7 linked regions of the Homo sapiens genome follow. The protein of the gene in region 7 purifies or fractionates together with the protein of the main gene of each other region. This does not show direct contact. Each region holds a gene or a part of one and is shown on either strand. Other genes may lie near its edges.

Region 1 (3,500 bases), on a different chromosome or scaffold from region 7:
ATTACTGGTGGCCCCGCTAAGGCACCACGCGCACTAGAGGCCCCTCCAGGCAGGAGAGGTCTCGTCTAACAAGGGGGGTAGAAAGTAGAGAGGTAAAGTTTTACGAAAGGTGGCTGTACATCGCTCTTGGAGCCAATCGCCGATCCGGCACACCAGGTGACCCTCCTTGTCATCTTCCACACTCCGGCTGCTGCGCTTACTGCTCTGTTGGCTTCTCTGCATGCACCGCCCCCCGAAACGCCATCCGACCAATCGCATGGTAGGCGGTTCCGATTGACAGATTGAGGTGTCAGTCAAAGGCAGAGGTGGAGACGGTGAGGAGCCGGTGGGTTGGTTGGTTGGATTTTCCAGATCCCAGCATTTCATAAGGCACACAGCATATATAACGATAGGGATATTGCAAGGGACACGTCAAGACACAAACTGACTTCAAAAACAGAAAAGTAAAAACAGCTACAGGTATGTAAAGAAAACTCGGACATTATCTTTAAGAGGAGCGCCACAAACGCTCAGGAAGATGACCTGCCTCTGCTGCTGAGGGCCACGCTGTGAGGAGAGCCATCGCCCCGACTCCCTCCTCCTCCTCCTCCGAGTCTCTCCCTCCCAGACCCTCCCATGTGGCTTTGGGCCAGAGCGGAAGATGCAGTGAGAACGGCGGCGCAAGAAGGCAGCTGGCCCCGCCTGGGTCCAACCATCCAGACTGGTCAGCGGCTGCTCCGGCTTCAGCTGCAGAATGCCCAGCCTGTCCTTGCCTGCCTCTGTTCGCCCACGCAGACTTGCACATGCCTGACAGCTGCCACTCACAGCCAAGCTGCTACCTGCCTCCAGACGGCATCCTTGGCCAGATTTCACCATCACTACCAGAAACAGCCTTCCGTCAGCAGCCCTCCTGCCACCAGCCTCAAGAAGGAAAGCAGCCTGGGATCCTCTGGGCCAGTCGACTGCCAGGCTTCCTACCACAATGGCCCACACAGGCCCCATGCCAGCTCCTGCCCTGGCCTTGGCACCCATGCTGCTCACAATCTAGGCCCATCCCAAGCCTCACGACGATCGATAGAGGGCACCAAACAGAGAAACAGAGCCAGACCTGCACTGCCATCCTGTGGCAGCATGTGGCAGTGTGCAAAGAGGTGAAAGGGCCACGCTGCAATCGCCCGCACAGTCAACCCTCAACCTGTAGCCACTCAAAGAAGTCACAGAAAGCGCTGGGCAGAGAAGACACCTGGCCTCTCCACTGCTCCTCAGGGGCCTCAAGGCCGGCAGGAGGGAGGCAGGGAAGAGGGATGGGGGAGAAGAGAAGACCGCACGTAACCTCGGAAATACACAACTGGCTTTGCTTCCCCAGGGGACTGAGCGCAATGTGGGCTCCAGAGACCTTACAACCCTCCATGCTAGGAATACTGGCCAGGCCCTGCTCTGGGCATGTGGCCTGCAACTGGACGAGGCCTGGGGCGGCAGCCTTTCTGCCATTTCTTCACATGCCCCATCACACAGGCACCTGCCCCTCCTCACCGCGACTGCCCCTCGTAAAGAGGCTCGGCTGGAGAGGGCCTGGCTGGAGATCAGAAGGGAAGTTCCCAGTCTGAGCTGGCTGACAGGCAAATCCTCCGGTCCTGTGAGGCACTCCAGACTGGGGGCCTTTGGGAAGGGGTGTGCAGATGAGACGCAGAGGTGGGTGCAGTCCACATCAGAGCACTCAGTTACACGAGGAGGCAGTCTCTGGGTGGGAAGGACCAGGCCATATAGCTGCAGACCACCATACCAGCCACTCTACTAGGATCCCTAAGAAGTGTCCTAAGAAGTGTCCCCAGCCACTTGCACCACGTGGCCTTTGTCTGGAGCACTGTGTAGACATAGACAGGCCAGGGGCCAGCCAGCATCGGAGCCAGAGTTCCTACAGTTGCCACTGGAAAGAGCCAGAAGACACAGAGGCCAGGACCCTGTGATCAGCCCTACACCTGGACCAGACAACACATACACACACACATGCACGCACACCAGTGCACGTGCACAGGGCTGGCAGTACTCACCCGGACCAGCCAGCCTGAGAGAAGGCTAGGAAGAGATGAGGCCTTTAAGCCCCAGCCAGCACACTCTGGCTACCACTCACCGAGGAGGCGCTGCTACAAGACCTGGTGCGGCGTTTGTGGCAGTGGTGGGCATGCTTGCGGGTCCGGTATGGCCCCCTCTCCCGCGATCGCCGACGATGACGAGAACGTGAAGGTCCATAGTAGTCCTCTCCAAAGGATGGGCTCCGCTCTTCACACCGGTATGTATCGCTGTCACGGCGCTCCCGGTACCTCCTCTGGTAGGGCAGGCGGTCATGGCTGCCAAAAGGGGGATGGGGACGCTGGTCAGCTGGGTCCTTGCTGTTAGCAAGCAAGAGACCTGTGGTAAGGCCACTGTAAAGGGCTAAAGGGGGACAGCCTGTGCTAAAAGCATCCACACTGGTGGGAAGTGGGCAGAGAGGGGAGGGTGCAAAGGTACTAAGCCCGCCCTCCAGAGCCCTGTCCAACGACAGCATCCTCCAGCTGTAGGAGGAGGGGTACAGGGGAAGGGGAGTATGGTAGAGTGCCTCCAAGGGTTCTATACCCTTCCAGAGTTCCCTGTGGCCTGCTGCAACTCTAAGTTTGACCTGGGAGCTAAGATAGGCCCAGGGAGCAAACTTTCCAGGGGTGAGGTTATGTTCCTAATCCTCACCAAGGAAGGCTTAGGAGGTTAAGCGGAAAGATGCTGGCCTAGAAAATGGGGGAATGTGTGGGGAGAAGAAAAGGCACTCCAAGACAGAGAAAGAGTGGGCGGCAAGGATGGTAGCTACTGCTGAGGCCAAGGCATGCAGGTGAGGTTAGTGGAGGAGCCCAAAGAGGACAGGGCAGGGATCCAGGGACAGCTGGGCAGGGATGGAGTCATCTCAAGGAGTCTGGAGCTGCCACAGCTGAGCCCAGCTGACAGAAGGAGTCTTTCCCTCCTATCTAGTTCCCTCTCACCTTCTGGACCGAGATCTTCGTGGGGGAGGCTCCCTTCGGGACGGGTATCGCAGTCTCCCTTCATGTTCCCGACTGTAGGACCTCCTCCTCTTCCATCGGTAGCTCAGGTACGGGTCTGGTTCAGGGGAGCGGTATCGCTTACAGTGATGCATCTAGGCCACGAGGAACAGAGAGCCCTGCTAAACACACAGCCAGCCACCTCCAGCCATGGGGCTGCTGGGGCTTCCCGGTTGCTCCTGAAGAGGCCCATTGTTCTGTTTGAAGGCGGCCCCTCCCAGAGGTTTATGAAGTGAAGAAGAACTCTGAGGTCACACTGGTCAAACAGCAGACAATAGGAAACAACTTTCTCTGCCAGTGAACAAACAAACAGCTCCCAGCAGAGCATCACTAGCCTGGTGGCCTGGGTGCTCAGGGAACTGGGTGAGCCAGGGCCAGGGGCTGAGGCAGTAACCCTGGGTGGGGACGGTGAACACTACCACAGGGAGATCAAAGGCAGGAGAAAGGGGAGCCTCC
Region 2 (3,500 bases), on a different chromosome or scaffold from region 7:
ATACTACTTAAGTGGGAAAAATGGGACAAAATGAGCTTCCATAGTTATCCCTCATAATGAGGTCATTTTCTTGCCTTGTTCATTAAAAAGAAAGCATTATTACCCTGACATTATTTAAAAACCTGGAAGTAGTATGAGAATTCAAGAAATACATTATTTCTTTAATCAATGAAGTAAAAAATTAAGCAAAGTGGTATAATGAAATGAATACTGGTGGCCAGGTATGGTGGCCCATGCCTATAATCCCAGCACTTTGGGAGGTGAAAGGATTGTTTGAGGCCAGGAGTTTGATACCAGCCTGGGTAACATAGCAGGATTCCATCTCTACAAAAAATATTTTAAAATCAGCTGGGTGTAGTGGGGTGCACCTGTAGTCCTAGCTACTCAAGAAGCTGAGGTGGGAGGATCCCTTGAGCCCAGGAGTTCAAGGATGTATTGAGCTATGATCATGCCACTGCACTCTGTCACTCATGTGTGACAGAACAAGCCTCTGTCTCTAAAAAATAATAATTAAAAAAAATAAAAGAAATGAATGATGGTTATCAGGAAAATGGTAGCTGAGTTCCTTTGAGTAACTTAACCAGCTACGTGAACTGCCAGAGACAAACTGTCTTCAGTTTCTTTCTATGCATTTAGAGTTTTATAGTTTACCAAGTCCTTTGACATTCATTTTACTTGATCCTAACACTGGCCCTGTATGATTCATTTTGGAAATGGGGAAATTGAGGCTGGGGAAAGCTAAATGTCTTCACCCAGGGCTCACTGTCAGGTGGATCCTGGAAGTTCTCAACCAAATAAACTCTAAGATGTCTTCAATCTCTAAAAGCTATGTAGCTGGTTTATCTAATAAAACACTTACGACTGATGAAATATAATTTACTCACCATACATTTAAAGCAGAATGTTCAATACCCACTCCCTCATTCTTCCCGATCAATATATTTTTTGACATATTATTACCGTCCAGGCAGTAGCTTTGCGATTTCTGCCCATCTGTTCCCCAGTCTCTTGTGTGCCTGGTAAATAATTCTGTCTTCCTCTTCTGTCCAGGAGGTTTTCTTAACTTCTGGATTCAAGTGGTTATGCCACCTCTCCCTACATTGTTTTCCAATTCTCCCCTTTAAGTGCTTGGCAATAACAGACCAACGTTTCGGACCGTATTTCTGTACAAGCTCTATCACCTTCAGATAAACACACAAAAATAACCTATGTTTTAAAGTTATGTAATGAGTCAGTATAATCATTCTTCAGTGTTACAAGATCTTTAGAAAATTTCCAAAATTTGCTTTCATTCACTGGAAATATGGGAATAGAGTCCTCTACTTCCTGTTTGCCCATTTTACCTGCTTCCTCAAATAGGAAAATATTAGCATTTTGGGAATATTCTTAATTATGAGTCACACACCAATGAAGAAAGAACTTACTCTCTGATCTTCTTCTTTGGTCCAAGGACCCTTGATGAGCTCAGGGTTTAGTACTTTCTGCCATCGGTGCTGGCACTGCACATCTGTTCGATTCTAGACAAATAAAGTATGCACCACCATAAAGATATGATGTGATAAGCACGTGAATTTTTTGTTGTAATAGGAATCACACATAGACCATATGCAGTGAAAATATTTAAGAACATTTTAGAGCATGTTTAGAGCCCATCTATCCCTCATTACTTACAGGCTACAGAACATGCAAGTAATATATCAAAGTTGCATCTAAAATTAGACACTCTGCCTCCTGAGGGAAACATTCCTGCCACATGATCTAAAGGACCATCATACTACACATGTGCCTGCCAAGTTAACCTTAACCTCAGATACTTTTGCAGAGTATCTACATAGCCTGAGGCTTGATAGAGATTCTATGTTGTCAGGCTTTCATGGAAACCACCCTAAAAGACTAAAGTTTGCTTCCCATTCAGACAAGAGATGTGCTTCAATCCAGGACCAAAGTATTTATATTGCAGAAAGAAAAAAGATGCATAAAAGATAGGTCCTATGTTACAGGAGTTTGTAAACTTATAAGAAGGAAAAGACAAGTAGATGACTGACTATCACAGATGCTGAATTTGATTCACTTGGAAGAAAAGACCAAAGCAAAATGATACTGAAGTGAGGAGAGAAGCATCTTCTTAGGAGGAGAAATGGTTTCCTTGGGAGGAGTCTTGAAGAGCTCTTCATAAGGACTTTGAAGGATGGACAGAACTTTAATTGGTGACATAAAGGGAGAATATTCTAGGAGGTGGGAAGACCAGGAGCAAAAGCCCAGAGGAGGTAAAGCAGAAATAAATTCAAGCAAACCTGCTTAGAGAGAGGAAGCAGGAAACAGAACTGGAGCTGTAAGTTGGGGCAATAGAGGAGGGCCTCTGTGTGCCAAGTCAAGGCAGTTTACTTAATTTGTGAGATTCTGTCACTGTGGTTGGTTTTGAAAAGATAAGGTACAGCTGCATTTTAGGAAGTTCCACCTGCCAATGGTGTTTGGGATGAATGGAAAAGTAGAAGACTGGCTGGGCACGGTGGCTCATGCCTGCAATCCTAGCACTTCGGGAGGCTGAGGTGGGCAGATCACTTGAGGTCAGGAGTTTGGGACCAGCCTGATCAATATGGTGAAACCTTGTCTCTACTAAAAATACAAAAATTAGCCAGGCATGGTGGCGGGCACCTGTGATCCCATCTACTAAGGGGGCTGAGGCACGAGAATCGCTTGAACCTGGGAGGCGGAGGTTGCAGTGAGCTGAGATCGTGCCACTGCACTCCAGCCTGGGCAACAAAGCTAGATTCCATCTCAAAAAACAAAAAACAAAAAACAAAAAAAAAAAAAAGAAAGAAAAATGGAAAACTACAAGTGGGGAAGCCAGTTAGGAAGTTATATGATAGTCCAAATGAGAGGGCAGGAGCCCAACCTTCAGCACAGCCATGAGAATGAAAAGGACGGGACTGACTATAAAGGAATTCCAGGGTCCTTAGTAACTGCTTAGATGTAGGGGTTGGGGGAATGTGATAAGTCAAGAAAGGTCTTCAGAATTTTAAACCTTGGTGCCAAAAGTATTGCTATTGACAAAAATAGGGAATTCAGGAAAAACTGACTTGGAGGAAATATCAAGTTTAATCAACTACCATGTAACAAATCATCAAAATACTAATTATCCTATAAATGAAAAGATAAAACAAGAAGCAACTGTTTTTAAAATTTGATAATCTAAATTATAATAATCGATTCTAATAATCTAAATTCTAATAATTTAATTATATGCATTATAATATAAAATATAAGTTATGGGTAGGGCATTTCTCCCACTTCTTAAATGTGAGTAAATTATACACTATCTTAATAACTCCTCCTAGAATATTTTATAGAAATCTTTGGGAGAAGCTTTCCTTTCGTTATAAGAAAAACTTACTAACTTACCGGGAGATAATTGGCAATAACTTTCCAGTCATCTGTTCCATTCTGTTCCACCAGCTTCTTCAGTTTTTCATCCTAAGACATTTAAAGGTAATCCTAGG
Region 3 (3,500 bases), on a different chromosome or scaffold from region 7:
GATTCCGCATCCCCCTCAACACTAATTATTCAAAATACTTGTTAAGTTACACATTGGTTTAACATATGTACTAACAATCCACATGTCTTATATACATATTAAGTATCCCTTTTCCAAAATGCTTGGGATCACAAGTGTTTTAGATTTTGGATTTTTGAATATTTGCATTATACTTTCTGATTCAGCATCCCTAATCTGAAAACCCAAAATCTGAAATGCTCTGATGAGCATTTCCTTTGAGTGTCATGTGAATACTCAAAAAGTTTTGGGTCTTTGGATTAGGCATGCTCAACCTGCACATATTTTCCTCAAAGTATACTGACTTAGACAGGTAGTTCCCAAAAGACAAAGGCTATATTTATAGACTTTTGCTTGAGATATTATGCAAAATTGGGTGCCTATTATGATTTTATGTATTTTTTGAGACACAGTCTCGCTCTATTGTCCAGGCTGAAGTGCAATGGTGCAATCTTGGCTCACTGCAACCTCTGCCTCCCGGGTTCAAGCGATTCTCCTGCCTTAGCCTCCCGAGTCACTGGGATTACAGGTGCCTGCCACCATACCCAGCTAATTTTTATATTTTTAGTAGAGACAGGGTTTTGCCATGGCTTTTTCACGGTTTTTCCAGGCTGGTCTGGAACTCCTGACCTCAGGTGATCCTCCTGCCTCAGCCTCCCAAAGTGCTGGGATTAGAGGCGTGAGCGACCACACCCAGTCTGGGTGCTTAATATTTTCTATAATGTGAAGAAATTAATTAATCTTGCCTGAACCAATCCCATATACTAGGTTAGAGCTCCCTACTATAATATGCTCACATAATACTCTGCGTTGCCTTGCACAGTAGCCAAAACAACTGTAACTAATGTCCATGTCCTCACTAGACTAAGTTTCTTGGGGCTGAGACTTGTTTCTTTCTTTACTATATTCCTCGTGCCTAGCATGTGCCTGGTATACAACAAGTACACAATAAAAATTTGTTGATTAAACCACAGCAGATACCCAACTCCAGAGGGTGACTGAATGTGTTAACACGTAATATACACAACTGGTGAAGAGATGAAAAAGAGCTGACTGTTGCCAAATTCAGAGGTAGAAGAGTTGAAGAGGTACAGATGAGAAGAAAAATCACACTGCTTCGTAAAACACTGAGAAGGTAACACAATATATAGGTGAAAGCAGACTTCAAAAAGGGTATACTTTCCATGAGAAACAGATGTCAAATATCAATGTCACAGAATTTCCCTGGGACTTTCATGGAGGCTTAGCATGAAAGGAGGTGTAACTACCTCCCCCCACCAACTACGCAGGATTGACAAAACAGCGCAGTGGGGAGGGAGATACGTACTGGGCGAATGTCTGCTGAGCTCCAGCTCTGGTCTCTCCAGGCTGCTCTGAAAGTCAGGAGGCAGCAGGGAAGCCACTCCCTCAGGATGGATCATCTCGTCCTCCGACTCAGCTGAAGCTTCTGCAAAGTACAGATCGGGTCGGGGCAGGGAGGGAGTGAAGGACTCAGCATGTAGGAATATGTAGAGGAGTGAAGGAGGTCAGGCAAAGTCACAGATACAGAGATACATACCAAAAAGAGCACCGTATAAAAAGAAAAAACTCCCTGGGATTCAGCTCTACTTCATCTAAATGGTAGCTTAATTTACTTATAACTCTTCCTGTTGGCAGGAATCCTCTTCTAACAAGACAGTCAAATTAAGTGTCCTCTTCCCTGACAAAAGTAAATAGTAAACCACTTGGCTTCATGGGCTATGAAAGCAAGTAAGTAGCAGTCTCAGCCTCACTTATTTCTGAAATTGTCTAGTTAGACAGGCCTATCTACTTGGTGACAGGGATAAGAATGACGAACTCCTTGTTAAAAGTGACAATCTGGGCTTACCTTCAAGTTCTGCAGCTTCTCGAGCTTCACGTTCCAGACGCTGCCTAAGTAGCTCCTGCTGCTTTTCCAGATACTGTTTTATGAAACTGTTCTGGCTCATTTCCTCACCAATCTGTGTAGAGGAAATGAAAACAGAGGGTCTAGGAAAACAAACCAGGAGAATGCAAAGAAGAACATTCCATGGAGCAAAGGTCCACTCCTTATAGTTGCGCCCAAGAAAGATAACTAAAATGTTGGAAGGCTTTTTTCTAAGTTAGTTCTATATTGAAGAACAGAATAGCCTTGAGTCACACACAAAAAAAGGGCAAAAAGAAGAGCTGCACATAAGTTTTTGATTTAAATATTCAGTTCCCAAAGAGTGATACTGGTATACAAATTACTATTCTTTATTTTTATTTTTTGAGACAGAGTTTCACTCTGTTGCCCAGGCTGGAGTGCAGTGGCGTGATCTTCCCTCACTGCAACCTCTGCCTCCTGGCTTCAAATGATTCTCCTGCCTCAGCCTCCTGAGTAGCTGGGATTACAGGTGTGCACCACCACACTCGGCTGATTTTTGTATTTTTAGTAGAGACGGGGTTTCACTATGTTGGTCAGACGGGTCTCAAACTCCTGACCTCAAGTGATCCACCCGCCTCAGCCTCCCAAAGTGCTGGGATTACAAGTGTGAGCCACCGTGCCCAGCCACAAATAACCTTAAATTAAAATTCCTGTAATTATATCTTTTAGGCTAAATTCCTAGATTACGTGGAACATTATCTAAAGGGTAATCTAAAATTTCCTTTTGGTAGTATCAAGACTGAAACATGGGGGCTCACGTCTGTAATCCCAGTACTTTGGGAGGCTGAAGTGGGAAGACTGCTTGAGCTCAGGAGTTCAAGATCAGTCTCAGCAACATGGCAAAACCCGTCTCTACCAAAAATACAAAAAGGTGGGCATATTGTGGTGTGAGTCTGTCATCCTGGCTACTCAGGAGGTGGTGGGTGCAGTGAACTGAGATCGTGCCACTGCACTCCAGCCTGGGTTAAAGAGCAAGACTCCATCTCAAGAAAAAAAAAAAAAAAAGCCAGTTCCTCCAAAAGATCAACCGTTACCTATCCAGGAAACATTTTTTTTTTTTTTTTTGAGACGGACTATCACTGTCATCCAGGCTGGAGAGCAATGGCGCGATCTTGGCTTGCTGCAACCTCCGCCTCCTGGGTTCAAGACATTCTCCTGCCTCAGTCTCCTGAGTAGCTGGGATTACAGACATGTGCCACCACAACCAGCTCATTTTTGCATTTTTAGTATAGACGGGGTTTTGCCATGTTGGCCAGGCTGGTCTCAAACTCCTGACCTCAGGTGATCTACCCGCCTTGGCCTCCCAAAGTGCTAGCATTACAGGCGTGAGCCACAATGCCCGGCCTCATATCCAGGAAACATTTTATCAAACAACTCCAAAATTCAAGTATAGTATTTAAAAGTATGAAATCAAGAGACTAAGAAAAGGGATATCCATTCAGCATTTAGACAAAGTTATAACTCCATTTTGTCTGGGTGAAAGGAAATCCTTGGTAACAGGAGCTTATGCCTTTTCCTATTTTTTTTTTTTTGTAATACAGATTCCCAAGTTGCCCTT
Region 4 (3,500 bases), on a different chromosome or scaffold from region 7:
AACAACTGGCAACAATAATGAAGCAATAAGAGCAAGGCGCTGAAAAGACACAGGAGGCCAAAGAGGTTTCTGCCTCTGAAATTTGTATGTATCCTTTCACTCGGAAAGAAAACAGTCAGATGCAGTGGCAAAGGGGGTGAAATTAGGACACCAACTTAGAAAAAGCTAGTTTCAGTTAGTAGCTAAATCAGCAAGACAGACATCGCTCATCATCAAATAACTCCGAATCTAGTAATGACCAAAAAAACCATGATTTATGAAATGTATGGGCTATGGTAAGAAGCGGTGGTGGTGAAGGTCTCAATCCCATAAACTAATAATCCTTCAACTTGCAAAGTCAGAAGTATCACCTACAGTGAGAGAAATTCCTATTTCAGACGATGGCCAGAAGCAGCCAGGACTCTCCAACACTGCTGGTGGAAGTGGACCGTGGTACAGTGCCTCTGGAAAACCACTCTGGCGGTTTCATATAAATCTAAATATACACTTAGCTATATGGCCCAGCAATTCCACTCTCAGGTTTTATCCAAAAATTAATAAAAATATACATCCAGCCAGGCACGGTGGCTCACGCCTGTAATCCTAGCACTTTGGGAGGCCAAGGCAGGCAAATCACCTGAGGTCAGGAGTTCGAGACCAGCCTGGCCAACATGGTGAAAGCCCATCTCTACTGAAAATACAAAAATTAGCTGGGCGTGGTGGTGCGTGCCTGTAATCCCGGCTATTCGGGAGGCTGAGGCAGGAGAATCGCTTGAACCCGGGAGGTAGAGGCTGCAGTGAGGTGATATCATGCCGCTGCACTCCAGCCTGGGCGACAGAACAAGACTCTGCCTCAAAAAACAAACAAACAACAACAAAAAAAACCCAAATGTCCATCCACTAGGAGAATGGATAACAAATTGTGGTAGACTGATACAATGGAATACTACTCAGCAAAAATAAAAAGAATAAGCTGTTGAAACATACCAAAACATGGATAAATCTCAAAATCATTATGCTAAGCAGGGCGGGTGGGTGGGGGCAGGAGATGGACCATATGATTCTAATTATACTAAATTCAAAAACAGGCAAAATTGATCTACAGTGATAGAAATCAACACAGTGGTTGCCTTGGAGAGGTGAGGGTGGGGCAGAGATTGACTAGAAAGGGCATGAGAGAATTTCCTGGGGTGCACATGTATGCCTAAAACATGTAGATACACAAAGGATCCTGTTAAGCTTCAGGTTCTTAGAAGAAAAAGCACCTAAGATGCTTTCATCAAAACCCCTAGATTTTCAATAAAGAAATTGAGGCCTACAAAGGCTGTGACTGCTCAAGGTAACAGAGCTACTAAAAAATACAGCCTCCAAACACCCATCTCAATGCTTTTCACACCAGATCATCCTGGGGCAACACCAAGAGCTTCTCAAAGTGTTCTCAGCTACGAGGTGCAGAGGAGATGCAGAGAAAGAAGAGCCTTTGCTGTAGGCCACTGGCACCTCTGAACCCACATCCAGGAGGAAACTGACCCCTTCAAGTACTCCAGGGTGATCCAATCCTAAGACTGGCCCCATCCGACCATCAGCCATCCCAGAGCCAAGGCAGGCAGCACTAAAGGCATTTGCTCATTGCTCAATGAATCCCACGTTCAACCCACAATTGTAGTTTTGTGTCCCAAGAACACCTTGTGTACTCTGAGGAATTCCAGTTTCAGTCCACCTATTTGATTATAAATGCTTACCTGTGTGTATGCACAGGTATGTACAGATGTATGCTTATCTATAGTCCTATATCTATCTTTACAGCTGTGTATCATACACCACTTTGTTTATGAGGGGCAAGGCTGGACATGTGTATATATACTTCAGGATGTGCAGAGGGTATGCAGACATGTTTCTGTGTATAGCTCAGATGTTTATTTAAATCAGGTGGGCTGCCAGACAGTTGGAACCTGGAGAAGAACCCACTCAATGGTTCAAAAAAATTAATAAAGTATCAGTATTTCAAAAATACTGTAAAGTTAGGATTCCACATAAAATCCTGATTTGCAGCTTTTCTCAAACAATGAATCCCTGCATTCCTGAGCAACAGTAGGTGTCTGGAGCTGCGGAGCTGCTGTTTCCTTTACAGAGGAAATGCATTCTCCAGTTAGCCATAGGCTCCTTCACACCACACTACAGCACTGACACTGAGGCACTGCACAGATTGCTGTTAACCCAAAGCTAGGTTAATATATTTTTGCCCCCTCTTTTCGACCCAGGGCCTCCTTAATTAACTTACGTTTCTCTACCAGGCATCTGAGCGTGCGGCCTCTCAATTCCTGCATAGCTCTAGTAGTAATGGTCAGTCTGGGCTGCCCCATGTTTTTTAAACTTCTTAGGTTTTCTGAGTTTCCTTCTCCCCCTTATACTGTTCCATTTTGAAATGAGTCGTGGGAGACTTCAGCTTTTCCCTTCCCAACCCTGTCGTCAACCTTGCTGGCTACTTTTCCACACCATGTAAAGCAGGCCAACCAATCATACTTCAGAAGAATCCCCACGCTACCAAAGGGCAGGACAGGCTGTCCTTAGACCAACAAGAGACCATGGGACATAGATAAACTAATTAGCATGCTAGAAAAATAAAGACAAAAATCCAAGAGAACCTAAGGAAAACATTTACAGACAGGAGTCTTGGCCAAGTGGCAGTGTGCTTACAGACCACCTTTGATCCTTACCTGAACTTCCTCTGTCCGAGTAGAATCATTTCCCAACAGGGGCTCTCCAGTGGGAGGTTGAATGGTGACAGACTTTTCTGACCCTCTGCCGTCTTTATTCCGGGGTGACTTGTGTCTCTCTCTAGTTCTTTCCCTGAAAAACAACAATGAGCTAGCACATTTATGCCATGTTAATTAACTCTCTGGGTTTATCAAAATGTAAGTATCATTTTGAATTTAGGGAAATTCTACATACACACACACACACACACACACACACACACACACAGAGCATCAAAACCCACCCATCTTCACCACACTTCAAGGGGTACACTGATCTTTACTCCCTACTAAATATTTTCTTTCTGCCATCCCAAGACCCAAAACAAAGACTGTCACTCTTCCTCTATCATCAGTGATATTTTCTCAAAGCCTAAAATTGTAATTTTAGGATTTTTGTAGCTAGTTACACTTTATTGTAATAATTAGTGATTTGATTTGGTTATAATTTGCCTTAACCAGTTTTCTAGGGCTTTTAAAATTGGGACAACACTGTAGAATAAGCTTTTTTCTACAAAAAAATATCTATTTTTTTGTAGAATATCCAAAAAAATCTGGGACACATTGTCACCCTTCACCTTTGGACAACAGAAGAAAGGAAATTCAAAGTCAGTACAAAGAATTGTTTACTTCTCATTCTTACAGGTTCAAAACTAAGTCATTCCCATAGGTTCTAGTTGAACTTGAAGACACCCATAGAAACAAACAAGCTAGGAAAAAAGGCCAAAGACACCAAGAGGGGTGGAGGGTGTGTGGGTGGATGTG
Region 5 (3,294 bases), on a different chromosome or scaffold from region 7:
TTGGTGTGTAGACTTTTTTTATTTTTGTTTTTGAGATGGAGTCTTGCTCTTTCATCCAGACTGGAGTGCAGTGGCACAATCTCAGCTTACTGCAACCTCTGCCTCCTGGGTTCAAGCGATTCTCCTGCCTCAGCCTCCCGAGTAGCTGGGACTACAGGTGCCCGCCACCACACCCGGCTAATTTTTGTATTTTTAGTAGAGACGGGGTTTCACCATGTTGGCCAGGCTGGTCTCGAACTCCTGACATCAGGTGATCCCCGCCTCGGCCTCCCAAAGTGCTGAGACTACAGGTGTGAGCCACGTGCCCAGCTAGGTGGTGTGTAAACTTTAAAAAAGCAGAGATTTCATCCCACAAATGCAGACTGGGATCTCCACATGACCAGGTGCTGTGGACTGAACTGTAAATGTCCTCCAAATTCATATGTTGAAGCCCTAACCCCCAATGTGGCTCTTCTTGGACATATGGCTTTTAGGAAGTAATTAAGGTTAGATGAGGTCATAATCCAGCAAGATTGGTGGCCTTACAAGAGCCATGTGCAGGCACCAAGAAAAGCCTACGTGAATAAGACAGCAAGAGGGTGCTCACCATGTTGGCATCCTCCGGCCTCAGATCTGTGGGGGACTGCGGGGGTGATGGGACAGGGAGAGAACAAGGAGTGGATTTTCTTGTCCTTTCTAAGGAAGGGGCTGGGAGGGCGAGGGCTGCACTGGGTGCTGGGACCAAGGGTCCAGGGGCTTGGATCTCTTGTTTACAAACCCCTACTTCTTTCCTGCTATCTAGCCCACACCCCTGATGCTCCCCGGAAAGGAGAGCAAGGATCCTTGAACACGCGTTAGCACTAGAAGGAAACTGGAGCTCACCCCAGTTGAGCCCTCCATTTGACAGACAGGGAAGCTGAGGCCCAGGGAGGTGAGGGGACTTGCTCAGTCTTTCCAATTGAGTATGTGGGGCAGAAGGAGTCCCCAGAGCCCCGGCCCCAGCCACCATCCTATTTGACTTTCCCCAACAGGCATTCTACCTCAGCTAAAGATGCTGCCTGCCTCTCACAGGCCCTGAGGAGAAGATGGCCACATCACAGGATCGAACACTACCACAAAACTCCTAGGAAGGGACAGGAAGGTGAGAATCCTTTCTTTTTTTTTTGAGACGGAGTCTCGCTCTGTCGCCCAGGCTGGAGCGCAGTGGCGCGATCTCACCTCACTGCAACCTCTGCCTCCCGGGTTCAAGTAATTCTCCTGTCTCAGCCTCCCAAGTAGCTGGGACTACAGGTACCCACCACCACGCCCAGCTAATTTTTGTATTTCTAGTAGAGACGGGGTTCCAACATGTTGGCCAGGCTGCTCTTGAACTCCTGACCTCAGGTGATCCACCCGCCTCGGCCTCCCAAAGTGCTGGGATTACAGGCGTGAGCCACCAAGCCCGGCCTGAGAATTCTCTTCTGTCAATGGTGTGGGCCTCTCGACCTCACTAACCTATATTGGCCCAGAGGTGATGGTGACAATTTGAGATAACACAAAGTCTCAACTATTTACGAACCTGGTCATCCAGAGAGGGCCCCGGAATTGCTCAAATGAACAGTAAGAATCCTGAGGCAGGGTACTGACCTTGGTAGGTGAAATACCGCCTATACTCTCAAGTTTTATGGATAGTGCAGCCAAATTCCACTCGGATGCCTCACAACTACTTAAAATTGGCTTTTTGAAGCAGCATTTCCCTAACTACTCCCAGGAACAAAGTTCTGTGAAATGTTCATAGAGCTTCATTGAAAAAAAAAAAAAAAAAAAAGCTACAATATTTTTCTTCTAAGATTTATTTTATAAACATGTAAGAAAAGTTGTAGATATTTATTGTGGGTCTGGTTATGCAAGAACAATCTTCCTGGACACAGTGTGCGATTCTCAGTATCAAAAGCATTCTCTTCTTTCAGTTCGTAAAAGAAAAACATGGTTTAACTTCTAATTTACTGCTTATTATAAGGTTTAAAAGCAATTACTGTACTTATGTATCGAACTTATTTGTGTAGCAACTAATTCATCTGTGAAGCCATGGTTTGCTGTGGCTTCACAGTAAATTTTGACTTAAGTCTAAAGCGTGTGTTAGCATCTCACCGTAACTTAATGCTTCGAGTGAGAAGTTTGAGGAATGCTGCTTTAGGCAAAAGAGCCACTGGAGGAATGAGCTCTGCTCTTTTCACCTGCTCTGGACTGCTCTCACTTTCCTCACCGACAGGACCACAGGCTTAAGAACTGGCTCAGCAGTCCTTCTTTAGGGTCTAGCGCCTGCCTACCAGCTTCCTCTACTTCTATCCCGGGACAGATGAATGCTTTTCTAAAAAATATTTTGGACCATCTGCATGATTCCCTAGCAAATGCTTTAGAGAGCTGGTAAGCTTCAGCTCCGACATGGCCAGATCATCAAAATTTGAAGTTTACTCAGGTCTATTTAATGAGATTTTTTTTTCTTATACAACCATATGCACTTCTGAATAATCTTCCCTTTTTCGAATCTGGGGCTTTCATCTGGAATTAGACTAACCTGCAGACAGTGATGCCAGAACTGGGCTGGGTTACCATAATTCATTCATTTACCAAACACTTTCGAAGCACTACTTACTCTGGGCTGGCCTGATGAAAGGATACAGAGATAACACCACAAAGAAACTTGCTCATTAGGAGCTTGCTTACTGGCTAGAAAGGAAAATACAACATGAAAATAAAGCATTGTACGTACATGGCAGAAAAATGACTAGCCTGCCAGAGGGCCCCAGAGCCTCAGAGGATGGAGCCACTCCTGAGGCTGGAGGGTTTACAAACTCATCCCATCTTTACAGAAGACCTGCTAGATGCCAGGCATGCTGGCAGGCACAGGGGAAAGCCCACTCAACAAGCAGACACGGTCCCTGCTCTCACGGAGCTTACAGTCTAGCAAGACAAACTAGGAACAAGAAATTACAGTCCAGTGTAGAGGTGTGCAGGGTTGTGGGGTACAGTGATTTGGCATTATACACACATTTCGCTTAAACACAATGGTATTTGTCTGAAAAAGATTTAAAAAAAGAAAAACAAATCAGTTGTTTGGGCCATTCCGCTGGCCCCTCCTTCACTCCATGAGCATAGACAAGAGGGCGGGCCCGGGCAAGCTCATGCCTCTGCTGCACCTGCGGCCTGCCTCAGTTCCCAAGCTCCCCAAAAGTGATCTTCTCGCCTAAATGTGGTTCTAACACCCCAAAACAAGTGATTTTTGCACAACACAGCCCTAACTGCAGGCCAATCACTTCACCTGGTACTCAACCA
Region 6 (3,500 bases), on a different chromosome or scaffold from region 7:
TGGTGCTGTTTTCTGCACAGGAACAGGATAGAGGAGATGGTCACATCAGAGTGTGGCCTCTCTTCCCACTCCAGGAGCTCTGGAGACAGCAGCCTGACATGTCCAGAAGAAGCTGTTCCCACCACCCAGCAATACCTCCTAATCCCAACCCTCCTGGCCACCTCTGGGAGAGGCCATAGGAAAGCAACAAGGAAGGCACTGGAAGCGCAAGAGTCCTGCAGTTGTTCCTCCCCAGTGCAGGGGGTTCTGCAGCTCCGAGAGCCAAAGGGCTTAGACCAGGGCTGATGAGAGACACAGAGGAGCCAGATCAGGGGACATGCCATAGCATAAAGGGACAGCAAGTAGGATGAGCAGCTAAGATCAGCCACCTGGAGTCAAGGGAAATGACTGAATAGAAGCGGCTAGAACATGGGCTAAGGAAAGGAAAAAGCAAGGGACAAAGGGTAAAAGAGAGGCGGGAACTTGGAGTCCTGCTTGGGAAGAGACAGGGAAGGGCAGAGGAGCAGGGCTGCTCACCCTCTCCGAGGGAATACACCTTGAAGCCAGACACTTTCTTGGCCAGGACGGACTTGGGCAGGTTGAGGAGGGCAGGGTTGTAGACAGGGAAGTCATGGTAATACTTCTCCAGGATCCACACTGCCACGCGCTGGATGCTGTGGGGGAGACGGCAGGAGGGGGTGGGAGAAGGGACAGACCAAGGGGCACAGGGGAAAGGGACACATTAGGGCAGGTTGGCAGGGCAGGAGAGGACACAGGACAGGGACAAGCTGCTTCCGAGAAGCCTGACTCCGGGCCTGAGGTCTACTTACCAGGCTCCCAAGCCTTTCCCAGGGCTGGGCCTGCCAGTCCCTCCCCACCATGCCAAAGCCTAGCAGAGAAAGGGCATTGGGCCTGGGTCCCCAGCCAAAGATCACCTCATCCCCATTCAGCGTTCCCCCAAGATCCTCTACAGGACCCAGGACGTGCCACTGATATTCTGTGTGGCCTCGAGGGGTAGCTTGTTTACTGGGAGCTGAAGAACTCTCCTCCTTATCTCTTTCTCTGGGGATCCCTCCTCTGGCCAGGTCACTTCACAGGCCACTCTGAGTGCTCACAAGAAGCTGCGCCTCCCAGAAAGGACTAGAAAAGGGATTCCAAAAAGCCCCTGTTTGTGCACCCCCCCATATTTCTTCCCTTTGGTCCATCCCCCTCTAATATTCCCTACCTCTAAATGCCTATTCATTCCCATCTCATAACTCCCAACTGATCTTGCCCCAAGACCGTGTACATGAACCTGCCTATCAAGCAGCAAACATTGGTGAAAACCTACTTGGTGCAAAGTACTCAACTCCCTCCCACACAACCCTCCAAGCCCATCACCTCCAGCCCACCATCATACCCTCCCACCCTAGCAGTCACTCCACATCCTCCCATGCCCTTTCCCTCCCAACCCTTCTCCAGCCGTGGGCTAGTACCTGAGATGGCCAACGTTGTAGAAGCGGCTGGCGCCGTCGGTGGAGCGCACGACCTTGAGCGTGAACTGAGGCTGGAGCTGGCGCAGCTCCAGCAGGACCACGGCCAGGTAGTGCACGAAAAGAAGGGCGTCCACCAGCGACACGGCGAACTGCACCACGCCCTGGTAGCTGCGCTCCCGAGCATCCAGGATGCGCACACCATAGAAGAGCCAGTAGGAGACCACGAGCAGGAAAACCAGCACCATAAGCAGGGCACGCAGCACAAAGACGCGGGGCAGCGAGGCCTTGGGCCGGCGGAAGAACAGAGCCCAGCTGCCCAGTAGCAGGATGAGCAGCTTGAAGGCGACAGAGATGAAGAGGCCCTCGCAGGCCGTCCCGCAAGGCTCCAGCTCCTCCCGCCACAGCAGTGGGGGCAGCAGCAGGAAGGCCAGAGGCGTGAGGAAAGACAGCAGTGCCAGGGTGGCCCCCGCTGCCACACCCAGGTGACGGGAGCAGTCCAGAGGGACACTGTCCTCCATGTCCTTGGCGATGCGTGTGAGGTCATCATGGGAGATGCTGTGCTCTGAGGTGCCCGTTACTACTGTCGTCGTTTCCCCCCAGTTGTCATCCTACAGGCAGAAGGGGGCCAGCCACACAATAAGGAGGAAAGGATAAGAAGAGGAAGAGGAGGGAAACAGGAGAAAGGGTGAGGGGACAGGAGACAGAGAAGAACACATGGGAAAGGAGAAGGCAGAAAGAAGAGAGGGTAATCAACAAATACGCAACCATCAAAGTATTTACTGAGCTCCAATGTGTGTCAAAGTCTGGCCTCTGCAGATGGCCAAATCCAAGACCCGAGCCCTCGGGGAGCTGGACACTGGTCAGTGAGAGAGGAAAAAACCACACATGCGGCAATGACCCTCAGAGCAGACAGCACAGGACAAATGCTGAAGATGCTGCTCAGGCAGTGACTGGGATCCAAGGGCAAACTCGCCAAGCAAAGCAGGCAGGCTTCCAGAAACCGTGGGACCTGAGCTGATCCTTGGGGGAAGGGGGCTCCAAGGAAGATGTTCTCAATCCCAGATGCACACATTAGAACACTTAGGGAAGTTGGAAAATAATGCTAATTATTGGAGAGTGCAATCTGCTTGTGAACCTTTAAAAAAAAAAAACAAAAAACTCCCCAGATGATTGTAATGGTCATCCAAGATTGAGAATCACTGAACTAAATGATTTCTAAGGGCTGGCTGGCTACTTAAAATGTGATCTGTGGACCAGCGGTGTGGACATCACCTGGGAGCTTGTTAGAAAGGCGGAACCTCAGGCCCACCGCATGTTTACTGAACCAAATCTGCATTTTAACAAGATCCACATGAATCACTCAAACATTAACATTAATTCTGGAAGTCCTGCTGGGCACGGTGGCTCACGCCTGTAATCCCAGCACTTTGGGAGGCCGAGGTGGGCAGATCGCCTGAGGTCGGGAGTTCGAGACCAGCCTGACCAACATGGAGAAATCCCATCTCTACTAAAAACACACACACACAAAAAATTAGCTGGGTGTGGTGGCACATGCCTGTAATCCCAGCTACTCGGGAGGCTGATGCAGGAGAATCGCTTGAACCCAGGAGGAGGAGGTTGTGGTGAGCAGAGATCGTGCCATTGCACTCCAGCCTGGGCAACAAGAGCGAAACTCCATCTCAAAAAAAAAAAAAAAAAAAATTATGGAAGTCCTATCTAAGTTCCTTCCAGCATGCCATGATTTTGGCAGAAGCTAGAGGAGGAGCCTCCAGGGCAGGAATGGCATGAACTGAGGCACCCAAGGGCTATGAGAGCAGAGGATCCCTGTGCAGAAGCACAGCAAGGTGCAACCAGGAAGGTAAGGCAGACAGCAGCCAGGCAGGGCTTGTGCAGGCCACGCTGCAGTGCTGGGCTGGGCAATAAGCACCTGTTCTCCAGGCATGGAGAGCCACTGAAGGAGTAAACCTGATCAAAGCAGCACAGAGAAGAACAGAAGACCCCAGGGGTAAAGGGGTGAAGGCGTGAAGGACACTGTGCAGACTCAAG
Region 7 (3,500 bases):
ACAATTCTCAACTGTTCTTCGGCCTGAAAGTTAAAAGTAAAAATTAATTATAGAAATGTATTAAAAATTATCATATGTACCCCTGCAACAGGTGTTATCTATTATGTATCTACAAAAAAATTTTTAATGCAAATGCAAAAAAGGGGGTAAAAACAAGGACTTCCTATGAATTACATGCCTTCAAAATATTTTAGTTATGAGGTGACAACTTACACACAATGGCATGTGTCATAAAATCTGACGAAGGTCACATAGTTTGGTAGAGAAAAAAGAATTAAGAAAATTAAAAGAGAACCCTTTATTAATTACATCTACATTTTCTGTCTTTCATTTTCAATGAAAATAAATGAACAAATTATGGAAAAGCATTTACACATTTTGGAAGTGGAAATTAATTTCCACAAATCACATGTTGAGATGACAGATTTTGTTCTATACCTATTTTTATCTCTAACTTCATTGTACCAGATTAATAGATTGTTAATTATAAACCGAGGTACAGATTTACTCAAAGAGCAGGTTATCTACCAATTGCCATATTTATAGTTGAAGGGCATACACACACACAAAAAAACAGAAACATAGGAAAAAATCTCCACTGGGGCTTTTTGTGTGGTCAAATCATGCTGAAAAAAAAGGGACTATATTATAGTATCAGTAGACAACCAAGAAACACGACAGACCCAATTACCTGAAGAAAAATATTACAAAACCTTCTGACCTGACTAACTATAAAGTGCTATCTAATTTCAAAAGGACACTGGTATAACTGATTCCACTCCTGCAGTGCCTTCAACTCCTTCCATGTCAAGCAACTTCTTTCCCGCATTCTTCCACAGATTTCCCCCTCTTTACCAAAGTCAGGCCCTTCTCATGCTTCCTAGAGATACCATACACACATCTTCAATTCTCAATTCTCAACCAAGCACAATTTTAATCCCTTCCCCAAGGGGACATTAGGCAATGCATGGAGATGATTCTGGCTGCCACAACTGGGAATGGCTCCTGGCATCTAGTGGGTGGAAGACTGGGACAATGCTACACATCCTATAATATGGAAGACAGCTCCCACAACAAAGAATGATCCAATCAGTGCCAAAATTGAGAAAGCCTGCTCTAACCCTTTTTAATATCAGTTATCATGATTTATCCTTTTTCCCCTCTATCTGACAGTGATCTTAAAACATTCGCTGCATCCTTTGAGCTGCCTACCTATTCCCATTCAAAGTCAAATTTTAGGTCATTGATTCCATCTCCATTATTCTACTAAAATTTTCTTCTGTATGGTCAAAATCTATCAAATTCAGTGATTTTTCTCTTTATTCAAATAAATTCTTCTGTTCACTTAAGTCTTTTAAAAACGTTCTCTCTTCTGATACATTCTCTAATGCCACACACTAATTACTTCTTTTGTCTCCATTGATATATATGTATTTTTTAAATAAAGTGTAAAGTGACTGGTTTACAGGCATTTATGGCAGAGGAAGATGGAAAAGGTAACAGGACTCCGGTATGCAATAAAAAATGTTGAGATTTTATCTTAAGTAGCAAAAAGGGAAGAACGCAAAGAAGTTTAGACAGCAATGTGACGTAGACTAAAAGATAGGTGTTGGAACAAATCAACCGCAGTCAAGTAAGGTTGGAGATAACAAAGATCAGAATTACAAGCAGTGAGAGAATCTGGCAGGTGAGCATGGTGGAAAATCCAACAGAGAGCTAAAATGTATCTTTAAGATACAGCTCTCTAAAACCTTTTTCCTATGCTACATTTAGACCTGGCTACTGGACACATCCACCTGGGAGACCTAGGACTTGCTTCAAAATTCAACATGTTTCAAGATTTAAATTCTTCCACTTTATCCTTAAAATAAATCTGCCCTTTACACTTTCCCTTCCGCCACTCAAATTCTATAGCTTTATTTCATCTCTTCCTTCTTCAGTCAAGTTTGTTACTTCTTGTTTTATATTCTCTGCCTAGAGTTTATTTTCATTTCTTTTGCCAGCTTCATCAGTTTAGGGCCACATATCTTTTGTACATCTAAAATGGTGCCCGTTTCCAGTGTGTCCTTCAATCCATCCTACACGATACTGCCAGACTCACCTTTCTTGACCACTGCTCACTCTTTCTTGTTCTCAAATTGCCAATGATATCCACTGTCCATGGCATACAGCTTAACTTCCTAAAGTATAATGTTTCTCTAAGACAAGATTTTCTATAACCTGGCTCCAGCTTTGTTTCTACTCCTCTTCTAAATTCTCCTTTCTATCTTGTTCCCCCGTCTTTTGCTCATGCCATTCTTTCCTTCTATGGAAATCCTACCTGTACATCAGAATCTATTTCAAATAGCCACTCTCTTCCTTAGGCTTTCACTGATATTACAACAAAAAGAACTGCCTGCTATCGGTCATCATTAATGAATTCATATGCCAATCACTTTATCCAGTTTTAATAAATCATCACAAATTTGGGGTAAGAGCTTAGTGTGTGCAACTGAATCAAGATGTAGTAAGGGTTCTTTGGATGTGTGTGTGTGCCTAAGAAACATTTTATCAATATAAATACTCAGATTCACTTTCTTCTAAGGTTCTAACTCAACCCTAGGAAAGCATCCTAGAGCCCTGGAGAGTGAGGGTACATAAAGAACATCACAACCTTAATCCATAAGAGAAATCTAATGAACATTACAAATATACCATTTTTTACCCTAGAAGACAGAAATTCAAAGTGTGACAGCACACTGCTGTGGTTTCAGTATGTCCCCCAAAGGTCGCTGTTAGAATTAACTGGCATTGTTAACAGTATTAAGATGTGGGGCATTTAAGCAGTGATTAGGCCATGAGGGGTTCATCCTCATGAATGGATTAATTCTGTTATTACCCGAGTGGGATGTGGGTTGGTTACCATGGGAATGGGCTCCTGATAAAAAGACGAGTCTGGCCACCACTTTTCTCTCTCTCTAGGGCCCTCTCTGTCTAGCTTGCTCGCCATGTGATGCCTTCCACCATGGGGAAACCTCATGGGATGCCTGTGCCATGTTCTTAGGCTTCCCGGCTTCCAGAACCCTGAGCCAAATATTTTTATAAATTACCCTGTTAGAGCAGCAAAAAATGGACTAACACACATATGCTATCATATAAAGAGCACTCTCACACTATCAAAATTACATCTTCGTAATACTTTATGCCAGCAAGTACATTTTCTGGAATTTACATTATGTACTTGTACAGCAATGTGCAAATTTTGCACCCATGCGAAACTGATATATTTACAGGGTTACATATTACAACACAGTTTATAGAAAGAAAAGAATGTGAAAAAAACCCAAATATCCACCAATATGGGGTACACTAAATAAATTACTGAAGATATATAAAGGAGAATATTGTATAGCCATTAAAAACAAGTAAGAGGAAAAAAGGAGGCCCCTATGTTCCGCAATGGAAAAATCTCCAAGTTACACTGTTAAATGAAAAAAAGAAAGTTCCTTGTGTACATGCTA

Evidence for each region.
Region 1: the proteins of ARGLU1 (region 7) and CLK3 purify together in Homo sapiens (affinity purification with mass spectrometry; one large-scale study listed by BioGRID and IntAct). This does not show direct contact.
Region 2: the proteins of ARGLU1 (region 7) and MYB purify together in Homo sapiens (co-immunoprecipitation; one large-scale study listed by IntAct). This does not show direct contact.
Region 3: the proteins of ARGLU1 (region 7) and ACIN1 purify together in Homo sapiens (affinity purification with mass spectrometry; one large-scale study listed by BioGRID and IntAct). This does not show direct contact.
Region 4: the proteins of ARGLU1 (region 7) and VANGL1 purify together in Homo sapiens (affinity purification with mass spectrometry; one large-scale study listed by BioGRID and IntAct). This does not show direct contact.
Region 5: the proteins of ARGLU1 (region 7) and NCBP3 purify together in Homo sapiens (co-immunoprecipitation; 2 studies listed by BioGRID and IntAct, with this or other methods). This does not show direct contact.
Region 6: the proteins of ARGLU1 (region 7) and VANGL2 purify together in Homo sapiens (affinity purification with mass spectrometry; one large-scale study listed by BioGRID and IntAct). This does not show direct contact.

What each region holds. Positions count from the first base shown.
Region 1 is NC_000015.10:74,618,836-74,622,335, reverse strand, and holds part of CLK3 (dual specificity protein kinase CLK3), read right to left. Parts: intron 3,140-3,500; coding exon 2,988-3,139; intron 2,328-2,987; coding exon 2,111-2,327; intron 217-2,110; coding exon 120-216; intron 1-119. UniProt on the Homo sapiens protein: Dual specificity kinase acting on both serine/threonine and tyrosine-containing substrates. Phosphorylates serine- and arginine-rich (SR) proteins of the spliceosomal complex.
Region 2 is NC_000006.12:135,187,808-135,191,307, reverse strand, and holds part of MYB (transcriptional activator Myb), read right to left. Parts: intron 3,475-3,500; coding exon 3,403-3,474; intron 1,518-3,402; coding exon 1,425-1,517; intron 1,182-1,424; coding exon 961-1,181; intron 1-960. UniProt on the Homo sapiens protein: Transcriptional activator; DNA-binding protein that specifically recognize the sequence 5'-YAAC[GT]G-3'. Plays an important role in the control of proliferation and differentiation of hematopoietic progenitor cells.
Region 3 is NC_000014.9:23,088,637-23,092,136, forward strand, and holds part of ACIN1 (apoptotic chromatin condensation inducer in the nucleus), read right to left. Parts: intron 1,998-3,500; coding exon 1,886-1,997; intron 1,466-1,885; coding exon 1,346-1,465; intron 1-1,345.
Region 4 is NC_000001.11:115,658,970-115,662,469, reverse strand, and holds part of VANGL1 (vang-like protein 1), read right to left. Parts: intron 2,830-3,500; coding exon 2,697-2,829; intron 1-2,696.
Region 5 is NC_000017.11:3,804,953-3,808,246, forward strand, and holds part of NCBP3 (nuclear cap-binding protein subunit 3), read right to left. Parts: 3' UTR 1-3,294. UniProt on the Homo sapiens protein: Associates with NCBP1/CBP80 to form an alternative cap-binding complex (CBC) which plays a key role in mRNA export. NCBP3 serves as adapter protein linking the capped RNAs (m7GpppG-capped RNA) to NCBP1/CBP80.
Region 6 is NC_000001.11:160,417,564-160,421,063, reverse strand, and holds part of VANGL2 (vang-like protein 2), read right to left. Parts: intron 2,063-3,500; coding exon 1,455-2,062; intron 1,120-1,454; coding exon of another isoform or gene 1,071-1,119; exon of another isoform or gene 666-1,070; intron 654-665; coding exon 517-653; intron 13-516; coding exon 1-12. UniProt on the Homo sapiens protein: Involved in the control of early morphogenesis and patterning of both axial midline structures and the development of neural plate. Plays a role in the regulation of planar cell polarity, particularly in the orientation of stereociliary bundles in the cochlea.
Region 7 is NC_000013.11:106,544,138-106,547,637, forward strand, and holds part of ARGLU1 (arginine and glutamate-rich protein 1), read right to left. Parts: intron 24-3,500; coding exon 1-23. UniProt on the Homo sapiens protein: Dual function regulator of gene expression; regulator of transcription and modulator of alternative splicing. General coactivator of nuclear receptor-induced gene expression, including genes activated by the glucocorticoid receptor NR3C1.